Linked DNA regions of Homo sapiens: region 1 is reported to be linked to region 2. Evidence: microRNA targets listed by miRTarBase, many of them from high-throughput screens and not tested one by one. Region 2 holds a microRNA gene; the other region holds the end of a gene's coding sequence.
What was found. The annotated mature microRNA hsa-miR-6794-5p reads CAGGGGGACUGGGGGUGAGC and lies in region 2 at 4,684-4,703, shown strand. An mRNA with a match to its seed (bases 2 to 7 or 8) in the 3' UTR can be bound and repressed. Matches are read on the target gene's strand: a 7mer-m8 pairs with bases 2 to 8, a 7mer-A1 pairs with bases 2 to 7 and ends in A, and an 8mer does both.

Region 1 (9,074 bases), not on the chromosome of region 2:
ACCAAGAAAATAAGTAAAATTCTAACACTGGGCAAATAGAGCAAAAACATTGTTACCTGAAACAATTAGTTTTCTTAGTATAACTGTGTTATCTTCCTTTAATGTTGGTATGTGCTAGATCCCTCTGATTACCTTTAATGGTTGTTTAAAAATAATTAAAATTTTTTTCTTTTTCAGAGATGGGGTGGACTTGCTTTGTCATTCAGGCTGGAGCGCAGTGGTATGATCATAGCTCACTGAAACCTCGAACTCCTGAGCTCAAGTGATCTTCTCACCTCAGCATCCTCAGTAGCTGGGATTACAGGCATGAGCCACTGCGCCTGGCCCAAATTCTTAAATTAGATAGAATATGAGCTCCCCTGGGCTGGGCACGGTGGCTCACACCTGTACTCCCAGCCCTTTGGTTCGCTAAGGCAGGCGGATCACATGAGGTCGGGAATTCGAGACCAGCCTGATCAACATGGATAAACTCCATCTCTACTAAAAATACAAAATTAGCAAGGCACGGTGGCGCGTGCCTGTAATCTCAGCTACTTGGGAGGCTGAGGCAGGAGAATCACTTGAACACGGGAGGTGGAGGTTGTGAGCTGAGATTGCGCCATTGCACTCCAGCCTGGGCAATGAGAGCGAAACTCTGTCTCCAAAAAAAAAAAAAAGAGCTCCCTGAGGGTAGAAATTATGACCTTTTTTTTTTTCTTTTTTTTCTTTTTTCTTTTTTTTTTTTTTTGTGACAGAGTCTCACCCTGTCGCCCAGATTGGAGTGCAGTGGCTTGATTTTGGCTCACTGCAACCTCCGCCTCCTGGGTTCAAGGAATTCTCCTACCTCAGCCTCCCAAGTAGCTGGGACTACAGATGCATGCCACCACACCCGGCTAATTTTTTAATTTTTATTAGAGACGGGGTTTTACTGTGTTAGCCAGGATGGTCTCACTCTCCTGACCTCGTGATCCACCCACCTTGGCCTCCCAAAGTGCTGGGATTATAGGCATGAGCCACCACGCCCAGCACGATCTTTTTCATTGTTATGTTTCCAGTGTTTAGTAGAGCTCTTGGTGTTTAATAATTGTTTACTGAATGAAAGAATGAAAATCAACTTTACCATGAACATTAGTCACAGTTCCTCCTATCTCTTTATTCCCTTTCGTATCTGTTATGTTGGCCTCTGTTTTTCTCACATTTATTTATTTTTATTATTATTATTATTTTTGCTGTTGTTAGTAAGAAACCTCACCAGGAATTTCTCACATGTCTTTATTTTGTGCATCTATTTCTACAAATTGACCGTCCATATAGTGCTTATTTTAATGGCTCTGTAATCTGTATTCCCATTATAGTTTACTTAGCTTTTCTCCAGGTGTTAGGCACTCTAGCATTCACTTTTATGAGCTGTCTTGCTATAGACATCTTTATAAATATTTCTCCGCCCTCTAAATTTTTTCCTTGGGCTACATTTCCAAATGAATCAAAGAGCATAGATGGTTCAATAGATCCACTCACTTAGATCATTACCTAATTTTTAATCTTTATCCACAACACATTATAAATGATGATAGCTTAAGAATTATAATAGTTTTATGGATTTTTTTGTGCTCTAGTGATCATACCGTGATTGATTTTATTCTAACCTCCTCCCAGGGTATATGAGTGTAACAAACGCTGCAAATGTGACCCAAACATGTGCACAAACCGGTTGGTGCAACATGGACTACAAGTTCGGCTACAGCTATTCAAGACACAGAACAAGGGCTGGGGTATCCGCTGCTTGGATGACATTGCCAAAGGCTCTTTTGTTTGTATTTATGCAGGTTGGTGATAAAATATAAGGGTTGTTTCCTGAGACTGGGACATGGTAGGGAATTGAACCAGAGACAAATTGAACATAAGAAGAAAGTGCTTGACATGTGAACTGGAGTAAGAGGAGGCCAGGGACTTCTACAAAGAACGTGATGAGTGATGTACCTGTCTAGCTAGACCAGAGAGGGACACAAGTGTTTCACAAATAAGAGAATGAAAAGGGATGAAATTTTGGACATGGTGATATTTCAGAGAACAGACATGATTATAGAGTCCAGTGTATCATTTTCTCCCATGTCACTCCACTCAGAGATCTTTTAGCATAGCCCAGTACTCTGTTTCAATAAAGTAGAAGAAATGGAAAGACAGAAAGGGCAAGATTTAAAATGACAGTAAGTTCTCCATACTTTCATAGTTAAGATACAAAGGGAGGTATTATCAAAGAGAAACACTGGGCCGGCGTGGTGGCTCATGCCTGTAATCCCAAAACTTTGGGAGGCCGAAGTGGGTGGATCACCTGAGGTCAGGAGTTGGAGACCAGCCTGGCCAACATAGTTGAAACCCCATCTCTACTAAAAATACAAAAATTAGCCAGGTGTGGTGGTGGATGCCTGTAATCCCAGCTACTTGGGAGGCTGAGGCAGGAGAATCACTTGAACCCTTGAGGCAGAGATTGCAGTGAGCCGAGATCATGCCACTGCACTCCAGCCTGGGTGACAAAAGCGAAACTCTGTCTCAAAAACAAAACAAAAAAAAAAACAGAAATGAGAGACCAGAATGGAGGCTTTTTGACTCTATATGCTGGTAGAGCGGGTATTGATGGAATAATCCTTATTCTTTCTAATAGGTCCCCGTGGCCGGGTGCGGTGGCTAACACCTGTAATCCCAACACTGTGGGAGGCTGAGGCGGGCAGATCACCTGAGGTCAGGAGTTCGAGACCAACCTGGCCAACATGGTGAAACGCCATCTCTACCAAAAATACAAAAAAAATTAGCCAGGCATGGTGGCGTGCACCTGTAGTCCTATCTACTCAGGAGGCTAAGGCAGGAGAATCACTTGAACCTGGGAGGCAGAGGTTGCAGTGAGCCGAGATCGCGCCACTGCACTCCAGCCTGGGTGACAGAGCAAGACTCCATCTGGAAAAAAAAAAAAAAAAAAGCAAACAAAAAAAAAAACTAATAGGTCCCCATAACCCTAGAAGGCCTTTAATTCTCTTCATTCTCAGGCAAAATCCTGACAGATGACTTTGCAGACAAGGAGGGTCTGGAAATGGGTGATGAGTACTTTGCAAATCTGGACCATATCGAGAGCGTGGAGAACTTCAAAGAAGGATATGAGAGTGATGCCCCCTGTTCCTCTGACAGCAGTGGTGTAGACTTGAAGGACCAGGAAGATGGCAACAGCGGTACAGAGGACCCTGAAGAGTCCAATGATGATAGCTCAGATGATAACTTCTGTAAGGATGAGGACTTCAGCACCAGTTCAGTGTGGCGGAGCTATGCTACCCGGAGGCAGACCCGGGGCCAGAAAGAGAACGGACTCTCTGAGACAACTTCCAAGGACTCCCACCCCCCAGATCTTGGACCCCCACATATTCCTGTTCCTCCCTCAATCCCTGTAGGTGGCTGCAATCCACCTTCCTCCGAAGAGACACCCAAGAACAAGGTGGCCTCATGGTTGAGCTGCAATAGTGTCAGTGAAGGTGGTTTTGCTGACTCTGATAGCCATTCATCCTTCAAGACTAATGAAGGTGGGGAGGGCCGGGCTGGGGGAAGCCGAATGGAGGCTGAGAAGGCCTCCACCTCAGGACTAGGCATCAAGGATGAGGGAGACATCAAACAGGCCAAGAAAGAGGTAAGCAGTGGCAGAACACTCTGAGAGCTATGGCTTTAACTTTGGTGCAGTAACAATGCAGTCTCACCATGAGTCTTTGCATGTAGATTATTCTACTTGATGGATATTTCTGTGGCCACCTCGTTATCTCTCCCCCTAACTAGCACATTCCTAGTGTTTGTTTAAAGAACCAAATTATTGACCGGGCACAGTGGCTCACACCTGTAATCCCAACACTTTGGGAGGCCGAGGCAGGTGGATAACTTGAAGTTCAGGAGTTGGAGACCATCCTGGCCAACATGGTGAAACCCCGTCTCTACTAAAAAATACAAAAATTAGCCGGGCGTGGTGGTGCATGCCTGTATTTCCAGCTACTTGGGAGGCTGAGGCAGGAGAATCGCTTGAACCTGGAGGGTGGAGGTGCAGTGAGCCGAGATCGCACCACTGCACTCCAGCCTGGGTGACAGAACGAGACTCTGTCTCAAAAAAAAAAAAATTATTTTAAAATCCACTTGCCTGGTGGTAGAGGGTGGACAAGTATCTGATTAATTACAAAATGAAAGATTTATAAGTGATTTTTTAATGTTAAATGCTGTTTCAAGTTATTCACATCATTGTTTCCTTCTACTAAAGTAGAGAAACAAGAATTGATTTTAAGTATCTCTTTGATGATTATGCTGCTTTCCACATTACAGATGGTGAAACTGTCCCTGGTTGATGTAATCCTGCTCGTGGTGTTTTCCATGAGCATTAAGCCCCATCACTGAGAAGGCTTAAAGGCTCCAGCCAGGGAGTGTAGTGAGGATTTCTGTCAAGTTGCAGAGTGGTTTACCCACCCCACTTTAGAATGTGTACCTGTCACTGGCTGATGTTATCTGTGGAGGTCATTTGAAGTCTGATTATTGGACTTGTTACCCGAGGCTGTGAAAGCATTTAACCCTTCACTTGTTCTTTTCCAGGACACTGACGACCGAAACAAGATGTCAGTGTAAGTGCCTTTTGTTTTGTTTTGTTTTGAGACAGAGTCTTGCTTTGTCACCCAGGCTGGAGTGCAGTGGCGTAATCTCAGCTCATTGCAACCTCCCCCTCCCAGGCTCAAGAGATTCTCCCACCTCAGCCTCCCTAGTAGCTGGGACTACGGGTGTGCACCACCATGCCTGGCTAGTTTTTGTATTTTTTGTAGACACGGGGTTTCACCATGTTTCCCAGACTGGTCTTGAACTCCTGGGCTCAAGCGATGCTCCCAAAGGGGATCCTCAGCCTCCCAAAGTGCTGGGATTACAGCCATGAGCTACCGTGTCCAGCCCAGTGCCTGTCTTTTTGACCTGTCTCCAAATCTGCCTTCTCTCAAACCTAGGCTAGAAGCCTAAGAAACAGCCAGTAACCTGTTGGCTTCATTCCTTCCCCTCCCATTAGAGTTACTGAAAGCTCTCGAAATTACGGTTACAATCCTTCTCCTGTGAAGCCTGAAGGACTTCGCCGCCCACCTAGTAAGACTAGTATGCATCAAAGCCGAAGACTCATGGCTTCTGCTCAGTCCAACCCTGATGTAAGTCACCTCAAGCTTATTCAGAGTCTAATAAAGGAAAATGGGCCATTGTCACCTCATCAAGTCCTTCACTATAATTACTGTTAGGTCTTCTCCTACTTCTTTAGCCTTGACTTCCTGCCTTATTTTCTTTCATCCAGCATCTAATCTTCCTCTTGCCACCGCCCTTTCCTGCCAAACCGTGGGTAACAGCAAGGACTTAAAGGAGCCCTTCCCATTTACTTCTCTTACTTCTTACCCTCCTGCTTCCCCAGGATGTCCTGACACTGTCCAGCAGCACAGAAAGTGAGGGGGAAAGTGGGACCAGCCGAAAGCCCACTGCTGGTCAGACTTCGGCTACAGCGGTTGACAGTGATGATATCCAGACCATATCCTCTGGCTCTGAAGGGGATGACTTTGAGGACAAGAAGAACATGACTGGTAGCCTGGAAAAATTTTGGGAATGGTGGGAAGAAATAGTAAGAAACTTGGGATAGAGCATTTTTTAAGGAAGCTAAAGAAGTAGTGGGTAAAAATTCAGATCCTAAGAATTGGAGCATCTCTGGGAGGGCTTTCTGACTCCAAGCTAAACTATTGTTTGACACATCCTCTCTCATTTCCATTTTTTTACTCTTTCCCCTCAGCTCCTTTGTCTAGCAGATCTAATTATGCTTGAAAAAAAAACCTGCTACTTAGGATCTTTGAGTTCCAGCTTATTGGTGTTTCTCAGCTGCAATGTTGGGAGAGAAATAGGGGTAGAATGTCCATTCATGATAGAATGTCTGTTCATGAGTTGGGATGGGTCCTGACCCCATTCTCCCTCCTGTCCAGGTCCAATGAAGCGTCAAGTGGCAGTAAAATCAACCCGAGGCTTTGCTCTTAAATCAACCCATGGGATTGCAATTAAATCAACCAACATGGCCTCTGTGGACAAGGGGGAGAGCGCACCTGTTCGTAAGAACACACGCCAATTCTATGATGGCGAGGAGTCTTGCTACATCATTGATGCCAAGCTTGAAGGCAACCTGGGCCGCTACCTCAACGTGAGACCCCTCTCCCCACCTCTAGATGCTGGATTATCCCATGGTCCTCAGATTTCTTTTAACATACTCTATAAGCCCTTTTCTTGTTATAAACTCTTGATCTCAAAGGATCTTAAAGAGGTAGCTTTCTTTCAAAGCATCTATTATAATGGGGAGGGTCAGATGGCATCATTTTTCTTCCAACTCTCACTCTCCCTGCAAAGCCAGGTTCAGTTTCCCTGGTTCTTATTTGATCCTGTCCTTAAACCTACAGCACAGTTGCAGCCCCAACCTGTTTGTCCAGAATGTCTTCGTGGATACCCATGATCTTCGCTTCCCCTGGGTGGCCTTCTTTGCCAGCAAGTAAGGAGTCAGGAAAGGGGATGACTGGGGAGGGGCAAGGACCACTGAAGTTCTAAGGGCCCCTCCTCCATTCATGATCCAACTCCACCTACATATTCAGTAACCCCAAGTGCCTGGGTTATCTGCTGTCTTTGCCACACACCATCCTTTTCTTCCTCTTCAGAAGAATCCGGGCTGGGACAGAACTTACTTGGGACTACAACTACGAGGTGGGCAGTGTGGAAGGCAAGGAGCTACTCTGTTGCTGTGGGGCCATTGAATGCAGAGGACGTCTTCTTTAGAGGACAGCCTTCTTCCCAACCCTTCTTGAACTGTCGTTTCCTCAGGAACTGGGTCTTCCTGATTGTTGAACCCTGACCCGAAGTCTCTGGGCTAGCTACTCCCCCCAGCTCCTAGTTGATAGAAATGGGGGTTCTGGACCAGATGATCCCTTCCAATGTGGTGCTAGCAGGCAGGATCCCTTCTCCACCTCCAAAGGCCCTAAAGGGTGGGGAGAGATCACCACTCTAACCTCGGCCTGACATCCCTCCCATCCCATATTTGTCCAAGTGTTCCTGCTTCTAACAGACTTTGTTCTTAGAATGGAGCCTGTGTATCTACTATCTCCAGTTTGTATTATTTCTTGAAAGTCTTTTAACAATATGATAAAACTAAGATTGTGGTTTTGTTTCTCTCTCTCAGCCCGATACTCCCAATTCTGGATCTTTCAGTGAGGTATTATCCCCATCCTCCCCTGTGGGCTGCTGTCATTCATCTTCTACCTTGTCTACCTTTGCTTCTTGCATGTGAATTTTTTTAGATGGAGTTCTCGCTCTGTCACCCAGGCTGGAGTGCAATGGTGCAATCTCGACTCACTGCAGCCTCCGCCTCCCGGGTTCAGGTGATTCTCCTGCCTCAGCCTCCTAAGTAGCTGAGATTACAGTCGCCCGCCACCACACCCAGCTAGATGTATTTTTAGTAGAGATGGGGTTTCGCCATGTTGGCCAGGCTGGTCTCAAACTCCTGACCTCTAGTGATCCACCCTCCTTGGCCCCTCAAAGTGCTCAAATTACATGCATGTGAAATTTAAAAAAGAAAATATTACATAACTGCAAGGAAGGCATAAGAAAGACTCTCTTCGTTTATTTAGTTGATCCCCCTTCTCAATTCCTAATAGTCTGACACTTATTGCCATGTTTTATTTAATATTTTTTATTTAATCTTTTAATTTTTAAAAAAAACCCATTAACAGTACATTTTGGTCTAAAATGGTCCCTCTGCTGAAATGCTAGGTGCTAGCCGTAATTCTGGCTTTAAAACCAAAACCCCAAATATTTAATAAATAAAAATTAGAATTAGTTGCCATTCTACTCCAAACCAGCTAGCCTAGCTGAAGAGAAGAGGGAAGGGGGAAGAGGCCAGAGAAAGGAGGAGGCAGTCAGATCTTAGACCTGTCGCTACAGGGACAGCTGAAAGAAGTAGCACTAAGAAAGATCATCCGAGCAGTCCCCAGTACAGCCCCCACTTTTTGGCAGAGGTAGGGTAAGGGTTATGTGCACCCTCCTCCTACCCTCAATTCATTTGTGTCATAGAGGGAGAAAGTTAAAAGCTCAGCTTTGGTTTCTGGCCCAAGTTAGGGAGCTTAGAAAGGTTAGCCTTGGTCCAGCTTTGGCAGAATGAGGCCCACAGATGGGACAATAAGGCACAACCCTGGCTCTGGAGGTCAGGGAGTCAAAGGCAAACAGCTGGGGCCAAATTCTCAGAATAAGGAATGTGAATTGTAACCCCTACCCACAGAGAGCTGAGGGAGGGCCTCAAAAGCAGTAGAAAGGATGACTTGGCGGGTAGGGAGGAAAATACGACCGTCCCCCTCTAACAGAATATAACCAACGTCCCCCTACCTGGGGATAGGCTGGTTAGAATTTGGTTTAAAGGCAACTGGGTGACAAGCAAGGAGGGAGGATGCAGAGAACTCTCCTCTCACTTTCTCCTTTTTCCCCAGAGCTTAAAGTGACCCTATAGCGCAGGGAGCGGGGTAGTTCCTTGGCTTTATGCATTAATCTGGGAGGCAGCTGGAGTAATGGTTCAGTCATTCTTACGATGGTTGTTATTGAGGATGGGGTGGCCATTGGCTAGGGGCCGGCTCTTTGCTCCTCCCCCAGCTGCAGCCTCCTCCCCCTCTGAGCTCTCTGTTTCTTCCCGGTCACTGCGTTCATCTTCTACCAGCTGTGGAAAAGGGACAAGAAGGGTTATTACATGAGATCCTCAAACCCCTAAGTACTGCTTCTCTCTGAGGGCTTGTTCCTGTTATACCCAGGGCTCCACACTAGTTTTTTAGAGAGTTACTGGCAAGATGGGAGTTCAGGAAGTTGTAGAGAGTAGTAAGGCCTACACAATGGGAACAGGGCTTCACCTTTCCAGTTATGAACTTGTGGGCCATGCGCAAAATGAGGTAGGCCCAGAAGATATGCAGCAGCTGTAGAACTCCCATCATGGAATTGAAGAAGTAATAGCCAAAGAAGGCAGGATAGAGCTCCAGTGGGTACACCAGGGT
Region 2 (9,441 bases):
ACTCGACAAAATGGGCTTCTCTCCCCGCAGCCCCGGGCGCTCCCCCTCCTCCTACGACAACGAGATCGTGATGATGAATCACGTCTACAAGGAGAGGTTCCCGAAGGTGAGGTGGGACCCGAGGCGGTCACGGGGTGACCAGGCGGCCTGCACTCTCGCTCGCCTTATCCCCGCGCGCCCCCTGGCGGCCTCGGTGCGCAGCGCAGGCTCCTGGCGGCCGCAGCCTTCGGGCACAGCCCCGCGCCCCTCCTCCGTCCCTCCCGCAGGCCACTGCGCAGATGGAGGAGAAGCTGCGCGACTTTACCCGCGCCTACGAACCCGACAGCGTTCTGCCTCTGGCCGATGGCGTGCTCAGCTTCATCCACCACCAGATCATCGAGCTGGCCCGGGACTGCCTGACCAAGTCCCGTGACGGCCTCATCACCACGGTCTACTTCTATGAATTGCAGGAGAACCTGGAGAAGCTCCTTCAAGACGTGAGTGCACGCGGAGGCCGGGCTGATCTCAGGCTCAGCACCGCCAGATTGTGCCCAATGCACCCCTTTCTTCACCCCACATACATTCAGGGAGCTCCTACCACGTTCCAGGCACTGGCGTGGAGCTGAGGACTCAGGGGTGGAAGTGGTCCCTTCCCTAGGTCTGACCGACTGAAGAGGCAGGAATTTCACCTCGCTCATTTCCCTTAGGTCTTTACTCAAATGTCACCTTTTCAGGTGGCTTCTTAGGCGGTCCCCAGTCATTTAAAATATTAAACTCGGCCGGGCTCGGTGGCTCAGGCCTGTAATCCCAGCACTTTGGGAGGCCGAGGGGGGCGGATCACGAGGTCAAGAGATCGAGACCATCCTGGCTAACACGGTGACACCCCGTCTCTACTAAAAACACACACACACACAAAATTAGCCGGGCGTGGTGGCGGACGCCTGTAGTCCCAGCTACTCGGGAGGCTGAGGCAGGAGAATGGCGTAAACCCGGGAGGCGGAGCTTGCAGTGAGCCGAGATTGCGCCGCTGTACTCCAGCCTGGGCGACAGAGCGAGACTCCGTCTCAAAAAATAATAATAGTAAATAAAATAAAATAAAATAAAATATTAAACTTAGCCGGGTGCGGTGGCTCAGGCCTGTAATCCCAGCACTCTGGGAGGCTGAGGCAAGTGGATCACCTGAGGTCAGGAGTTCGAGACCAGCCTGGCCAACATGGCGAAACCCCGTCTCTACTAAAAATACAAAAATTAGCTGGGCGTGGTGGTGGGCGCCTGTAATCCCAACTACTTGGGAGGCAGAGGCGGGAGAATCGCTTGAACCTGGGAGTCGGAGGTTGCGGTGAGCCGAGATCACACCATTGCACTCCAGTCTGAGCAACAAGAGTGAAACTCTGTCTCAAAAATAAATAAATAAATGAAATAAAATAAAATATTAAACTCTACTCACATTTATCACCCACTTTCTCCTCAGTTTCTCCTTGACACTCAGCACCATCCATCATACTGTGTATTTTTGCTTATTTTATTTCATGTCTATCCTTCTCCAATGTCAGCCCCATAGTTGGTGAGGGTGGGGGGGTGGAGTTGTCTGTTCTGTCCACTGCTGTGTCCCTGCTGTTTGGAACAATACCCAGCACACAGTAGGTACTCAATAAATGTTGGGTAAATTGATGCTTGAATGTCCCTTTGCAGTGGCATGCACCTGTAGTCCCAGCTAGCTACTTAGGAGGCTGAGATGGGAGGATTGCTTGAGGTCAGGAGCTTGAGACCAGCTTGGGCAACATAGCAGGACCCCATCTCTAAAACAATTTAAAAAATTTAAGCCAGGCGAGGTTGCTCACGCCTTTAATCCCAGCACTTTGGGAGGCTGAGGCGAGCAGATCACGAGGTCAGGAGTTTGAAACCAGCCTGGCCAATAAGGTGAAACTCTGTCTTTACTAAAAATACAAAAAAGTTAGCCGGGCTTGGTGGCACGTGCCTGTAATCCCAGCTACTCAGGAGGCTGAAGCAGGAGAATCGCTTGAATCCGGGAGGCAGTGGTTGCAGTGAGCCGAGGTTGCGCCACTGCACTCCAGCCTGGGCAACAGAGTGAGATTCTGTCTCAAAAAAAATAAAAATAAAAATAAAAATAATTAGCTAGGTGTAGTGGCACACACCTGCTGTCCCAGCTACTTGAGAGGCTGAGGCAGGAGGATCACTTGATCATTCATTAATTCCACCAATATTTATTTATTTATTTATTTTATTTTTTTTGGAGACAGAGTCTCACTCTATCCCACTGGGCTGGAGTGCAGTGGTGCGATTTTGGCTCACTGCAACCTCCACCTCTCAGGTTCAAGCCATTCTCCTGCCTCAGCCTCCCGAGTAGCTGGGATCACAGGCACCCACCACCATGCCTGGCTAATTTTTGTATTTTTAGTCGAGGCAGGGTTTCACCATGTTGGCCAGGCTGGTCTCTAACTCCTGACCTTAGGTGATCCACCTGCCTCTGCCTCCCAAAGTGCTGGGATTACAGGTGTGAGCCACCATGCCTGGCCCCCACCAATATTTATTAAGCACCTACTATGGGCCTGGCACTAGCCTAAAAGCTGGGAAATCAACTGGAAATAAAACAAAAATTCTTGTCTTTGGAGAGCTGACATTCTATTAATAGCAGGAAGAGACAGAAGATAAACAATAGGCGTTAGAAGCTAACCCCTGTAATCCCAGCACTTTGGGGAGCTGAGACAGGAGGCTTTCTGGAGCCCAGGAGTTGCAGACCAGCCTGGGTAACATAGCGAGACCCTGTCTCTACAGTAAAACAAGTCAAACAAACAAAGACCCAATAGGTATTAGGGCTGAGACCAGGACCAGGGTAAAGCAAGTAATTATTTCTTCCCCCAGAACATTAAATTAATTTTTGAAAAACTTGAAAAGTAGATAAATGAAAACCCAACATTATTTTAAGTTTACATATTTTATTTATAACCAAGCCAGAATGTGTTATAATTTTACTGTCCTGGTTTTAATGAAAGCAAACTCATCAATAATACTATTTTCATTGAAACCATTAGACATTTTCAAAGACACATTAAAACACATATAGGTTGGTGCATACTTTTTTTTGGCTCAAGTTACAATATGGCTAGGCACAGCCTGTTGGATTCTGTCTTTATTTAATTTTCTTTTTCTTTTTCTTTTTCATTTGAGATGGAGGACTCTCTATGTTGCCCAGGGTGGTCTTGAACTCCTGGGCTCAAGCAATCCTCCTGCCTCAGCCTCCTGAGTAGCTGGGATTATAGGCATGTACCACCACATCTGGCTTAAATTTTGATATTTTGGCTTATGATAGATTTTTGGCATTAATTTTAGGCTTTTCAAGTATTGCAATAAGATATTAGTTTTTTCTTTTCTTTTTTTTTTTTTTTGAGACAGTCTCACTCTGCTACCCAGGCTGGAGTGTAGTGATGTGATCTCGGCTCACTGCAACCTCCACCTCCCTGGTTCAAGCGATTCTCTTGCCTCAGCCTCCCAAGTAGCTGGCATTACAAGTGTGTGGCACTATACCCAGCTAATTTTTGTACTTCCAGTAGAGATGGGGTTTTGCCATGTTGGGCAGGCTGGTCTCAAACCCCTGACCTCAAGTAATTCACCCTCCTCTGCCTCCCAAAATGCTGGGATTACAGGCGTGAGCCACTGTGCCCGGCCTCTTTTTCTTTTCTTTTTTTCTTTTTTTTTTTTTGAGACAGGGTCTCTCTCTCTGTCACCCAGGCAGGAGTGCAGTGGTATAATCAGCTCACTGCAGCCTTAGCCCCCTGGGCTCAAGTAATTCTCCCACTTCAGCCTCCCAGGTAGCTAGGACTACAGGCACACACTACCACACCTGGCTAATTTTATTATTTGTAGAGACAGGGTCTCGCTATGGTTTTGTTGTTTGTTTGTTTGTTTGTCATTGCTTTTGTTTTGAGACAGAGTCTCGCTGTGTCACCCAGGCTGGAGTGCAGTGGTGTGATCTTGGCTCACTGCAACTTCTGCCTCCCAGGTTCAAGGGATTCTCCTGCTTCAGCCTCCCAAGTAGCTGGGATTACAGGCACCTGCCACCACGCCTGGCTCATTTTGCGTTTTTAGTGGAGATGGGGTTTCACCATGTTGGCCAGGCTGGTTTCAAACTTTTGACCTCAAGTGATCCACCCACCTCAGCCTCCCAAAGTGCTGGGATTACAGGCATGAGCCACCGTGCCCAGCCTCATTATTTTTACTGTGTGGCTTGGGCTTCAGTCTCCTCACCTGTAAGATGGGACAGTAGCAGCAGTATGTACTCTGAGGGGCTGAGAGAGGGGCCGGGCTGAGGCAGAGTGCCTATGAGCCCTGTCCCTCTGTGTCCCCTGCCACAGGCCTATGAACGCTCTGAGAGCTTGGAGGTGGCCTTCGTTACTCAGCTGGTGAAGAAGTTGCTTATTATCATCTCACGCCCTGCGAGGCTGCTGGAGTGCCTGGTGAGGGGGCTGGGCATGGGTAGGGGTGGGTTGGTAGACCCTGGGAGCCTGTGGTGAGCCCACTCCTGCCCTGCCTCAGGAATTCAACCCCGAGGAGTTCTACCACCTGCTGGAGGCGGCCGAAGGACACGCCAAGGAGGGCCACCTTGTGAAGACGGACATCCCCCGCTACATCATCCGCCAGCTGGGCCTCACCCGTGACCCCTTTCCAGGTGCCGGCTGGTGGGCGCAGGGGGACTGGGGGTGAGCAGGCCCAGAACCCAGCTCGTGCTCACTCTCAGTCCCTCCCTAGATGTGGTGCATCTGGAGGAACAGGACAGTGGTGGTTCCAACACCCCTGAGCAAGACGATCTCTCTGAGGTAAGGCTGGGTGGCTAAGCGGTCAGTACCCTGGTTCCTGGGAGGGCAGGGTGGGGCTCATCTCCGGCTTCTTTGCCCTCAGGCTTTGTGGATCTCTTGGTCCTACACTCTGAGCCTCAGTTTTCCCATCCATAAAATGGGATTAATAATAGCTCTTCCAGAGCCTGGCATGCTGGCTCATGCCTGTAATCCCAGCACTTTGGGAGGCCAAGGTGGGCAGATCACCTGAGGTCGGGAGTTCGAGACCAGCCTAACCAACATGGAGAAACCCCGTTTCTACTTAAAAAAAAAAAAAATGCAAAAATTAGCCAAGCCTGGTGGCACATGCCTCTAATCCCAGCTACTTGTGAGGCTGAGGCAGAAGAATCACTTGAATCCAGGAGGCAGAGATTGCTGTGAACTGAGATTACACCACTGCACTCCAGCCTGGGCAACAAGAGCGAAACTGTCTCAAAAAATAAAATAAAATAAAATAAAATAATTGCTCTTCCCCTGTGACCTCTTTGTCATGTTAAAATCCATGAAACATAAAATTTAATTTACTTTTTTAACCATTTTATTTTATTTTTATTTATTTATTTATTTATTTTTTGAGATGGAGTTTTGCTCTTGTTGCCCAGGCTGGAGTGCAATGGCACTATCTCAGCTCACCACAACCTCCATCTCCTGGGTTCAAGCAATTCTCCTGCCTCAGCCTCCCGAGTAGCTGGGATTACAGGCATGTAACACCACACCCGGCTAATTTTGTATTTTTAGTAGAGACTAAAATTTCTCCATGTTGGTCAGGCTGGTTGCAAACTCCCAATCTCAGTTGATCTGCCCATCTCGGCCTCCCAAAGTGCTGGGATTACAGGCATGAGCCACCGCGCCCGGCCTTTTTAACCATTTTAAAATGAACAATTCGGGGCCGGGTGCAGTGGCTTAGGCCTGTAATCCCAGCACTTTGGGAGGCCAAGGCAGGAGGATTGTTTGTGCTAAGGCATTTGAGACCAGCCTGGGCAGCATAAAAAATCAGCTGGGCGTGGTGGTGCACCCCTGTAGTCCCAGCTACTCGGGAGGCTGAGGTGGGAGGATCCTATGAGCCCAGGAAGTCAAGGCTTCAGTAAGCCATGATCACACCACTGCACTCCAGCCTGGGCAACAGGGTGAGACCCTGTCTTGAAAAATGAAATTAAAAATAATAAAGAATAGGCCAGGTGCAATGGCTTATGCATGTAATCCTAGTACTTTGGGAGGCCAAGATGGGTGGATCACTTGAGGTCAGGAATTCGAAACCAGCCTGGCCAACATGGTGAAACCCCATTTCCACTAAAAATACAAAAAAATTAGTTGGGCGTGGTGGCACATGCCTGTAATCCCAGCTACTTGGAAGGCTGAGGCAGGAGAATTGCTTGAACCCGGGAGGTGGAGGTTGGTGTGAGCCAAGATCCCACCACTGCACTCCAGCCTGGGCAACAGAGCGAGACTCTGTCTCAAAATAATAATAATAATAATAATAATAATAATAATAATAATGATTAATAGTAATAAATAAACAATTCTGCAGCATTTAGTAATTCACCATGCTGTACAGCCATTAGATCTATGTAGTTGCAGAACTTTTTTATCACCCCCAAAGGGAAACCTCACACCCATTACACACTCCCTCCTCATTCCTCCCTCCCTGCAGTCCCTGGCAACCACTAATCTATTTTCTCTCTCTGTGGAATTGCTTTTTCTGGATATTTCTTTTTTTTTTTTTTTTTGAGACAGAATTTCACTCTTGTTGCCCAGGCTGGAGTGCAATGGCGTGATCTCGGCTCACTGCAACCTCCGCCTCCCAGGTTCAAGCAATTCTCCTCCCTCAGCCTCCTGAGTAGCTGGGATTATAGGCATGCGCCACCACACCTGGCTAATTTTGTATTTTTAGTAAAGACAGGGTTTCACCATGTTGGTCAGGCTGGTCTCGAACTCCTGACCTCAGGTGATCTGCCTGCCTTGGCCTCCCAAAGTGCTGCGATTACAGGCGTGAGCCACATGCCTGGCCTTTTTCTGGATATTTCCTATAAATGGGATCGTATGCTCTGTGGCCTCTTATGACTGGCTTATTTCACTTAACATAACGTTTCTGAGGTTTATCCATGTTGTAGCTTGTGTCACTGCTTCATTCATTTTTATAGCCGAGTAATATTCCATTGAATGGTAGATGCATTCATCCACTGGTGAACATTGGGTTGTCCATCTTTCATCTGTTGTAAATAGTGCTCTTATGAATGTGGGTGTACAAATATTTGGCTGGACAACTGCTTTGAGTTATTTAGGATATACGTCTAGAGGTGGAATTTCTTGGTCATATGGTAGCTCTATGTTTAACTTATAGAGGAATCCTGCATGGGCTTTCGAGCAAGCTAACTGGCTGTATGTGTTAATGGCAGCTCAGCATGGGGAAAATTGCCAATTCTATTCCCAGGCCAGCCACACTTTGGCAGATGTTCCAGATGTCTAGTGGAGAGTCCTACCCCAATGGCCACACATGTGTTTTCTCTGAACTGCCTAGTATTTTTCAAAAATTTGGGCTGGGCCTGATGGCTCACGGCTGTAATCCCAGCACTTTGAGAGACTGCGGCGGGTGGATCACTTGAGGTCAGGAAGTCGAGACCAGCCTGGCCAACATGGTGAAACCCTGTCTCTACTAAAAAAATACATAAAATTAGCCAGGTGTGGTGGTGCCCACCCGTAATCCCAGCTACTTGGGAGGCTGAGGCAGGAGAACTGCTGGAACCAGGGAGACAAAGATTGCAGTGAGCCGATATCAAACCACTGCACTCCAGCCTGGGTGAGAGAGTGAGACTCCATCTTGAAAAAAATAAAAATAGATAAATAAAAGAAGCAAAATATAAAAATTGAAAGATTTTTGCTTCAAAATCTGGGTTTGGGCCTTCTCTTGAAAAATCAGAAGTTCTAGGGCTGGGTGTAGTGGCTCATGCCTGTAGTCCCAGCACTTTGGGAAGCCAAGGTGGCAGGATTGCTTGAGCCCAGGAGTTTGAAACCAGTCTGGACAACATAGCAAGACCCTGTCTCTACTTAAAAAAAAATAGAAGAAGAAGAAGTTCTAATAATACTGTGGTGGAACCAGCTGAGTGGGGGTGGTCCTGTGATATTGGGTACCTGCCCCTTCGTCATCCATGGCCTCCACCCTGGTCTACTGGCCCCTGAAGACGCTTAAGTTTGTAATCTTTATTTCAAATTGTGTCTATACAGTCACACAGATATATACACATACCTTTCCTTTATGTATATATTTAAAAGGAATCTCACAATATATGCCATTTGTTTAATTTTTTGAATAGGTAATGGAATGACATCACTCAAAATCTAAAACTCTAAAAAAAGGTATTTATCTCTCATTGTTTGTAGGATTCTGTTATTCCTTTTAATCAAACTTGTTAATTGAGTGATTCAAATCTTCCATCTCCCTATTCATTTATCTTGCCTGATTAATCTAATAGTTTCTGAGAGAAATGTGAAACCTTATTTTAAGCAAATTCTCCTTGTAATTCTGTCAATTTTTTTTTTTTTTTTGCCATTTTGGTTTTTATTTGATTATAGGTAAGAGTTCCATACAATAGTGTGCGAAGTATTGCAAACAATAAAGGAAAAATACAGCATAAGATACCTCTTACACTCTGCCCAATTCTGTCAATTTTTATGTCAGATATTTTTAGGCTACATTCTTTGGAGCATATAAGTTCAATATTTTTATATATCATAGATCTTTTTATGTAATATCTATGTAATAAATCTCTTTGTCCCTAAGAAAAATCAAAATAATTTTCAAGAAAGATATACAGTGAAAAAAATCTTACTCCTACCTTTTTTCCCCATTGCCCTATAGCCCTGAAATATGATTACATAGTTTTATTTTGCCACTTTTTTTTTTTTTTTTAGACAAAGTTCCACTCTTGTTGCCCAGGCTGGAGTGCAACAGTGTGATCTCGGCTCACTGCAACCTCTGCTTCCTGGGTTCAAGTGGTTCTCCTGCTTCAGCCTTCCAAGCAGCTGGGATTATAGGCAACCACCACCACGCCTGGCTAAGTTTTTGTATTTTTAATAGAGACAGGGTTTCACCATGTTGGCCAGGCTGGTCTCGAACTCCTGACCTTCAGGTGATCCACTTGCCTTGGCCTCCCAAAGTGCTGGGATTGCAGGTGTGAGCCACCACACCTGGCCTTTGCCACATTTTTTTGCACATAAACGTACAATACATATTGCCTATTGCATTTTTACACTTAATAAAATAGAGGACTTTCTAAATCCATAGACAGAGAGTTTCCTCATTATTTCTAACAGTGGCACAATGTTTCTTTATCTAACTACCCCACATGTGTTTGTTTGGCTAATTTAACGTATGGATTATTATTTCCAATCTCACAATGAGCAAGATAGTAGATATACCATTTTTCACATGTGCAAGTATATCTGTAGCATAAATTCAAAAGTAAAATTGCTGAGTCAAAGGGAACATGTATTTGTAATTCTGATCTGTATCAAACAGTAATTTACACTCCCAACAGCAAAGTATATATGTTCACCTACATATTTGCCCATAGAGGATATCAGGTTTTGGAGTTTTTTCTCCCAATCTGCT

Region 1: miRTarBase lists CERS2 as a target of hsa-miR-6794-5p. Seed matches in the 3' UTR shown: 7mer-m8 at 7,927-7,933.

What each region holds. Positions count from the first base shown.
Region 1 is chr1:150,957,543-150,966,616 of GRCh38, forward strand. CERS2 (ceramide synthase 2) reads right to left here. Exons shown (of 11, transcript NM_022075.5): 10 at 8,934-9,074; 11 at 7,644-8,746. The coding sequence ends at 8,606. SETDB1 (SET domain bifurcated histone lysine methyltransferase 1) reads left to right here. Exons shown (of 22, transcript NM_001366418.1): 15 at 1,636-1,805; 16 at 3,021-3,649; 17 at 4,588-4,616; 18 at 5,045-5,177; 19 at 5,432-5,597; 20 at 5,988-6,199; 21 at 6,453-6,541; 22 at 6,705-7,195. The coding sequence ends at 6,822. Among named protein-coding and RNA genes, the nearest start is that of CERS2, 13 kb to the right of the region's middle. RefSeq lists enhancers at 7,239-7,383, 7,876-8,020 and cis regulatory regions at 7,311, 7,947.
Region 2 is chr19:12,847,582-12,857,022 of GRCh38, forward strand. MIR6794 (microRNA 6794) reads left to right here and starts at 4,679; the gene lies at 4,679-4,746. It overlaps MAST1 (microtubule associated serine/threonine kinase 1), which reads left to right. Exons shown (of 26, transcript NM_014975.3): 6 at 31-106; 7 at 267-476; 8 at 4,353-4,454; 9 at 4,534-4,666; 10 at 4,747-4,814. RefSeq lists a cis regulatory region at 1-430, a silencer at 103-282 and enhancers at 152-975, 4,608-5,108.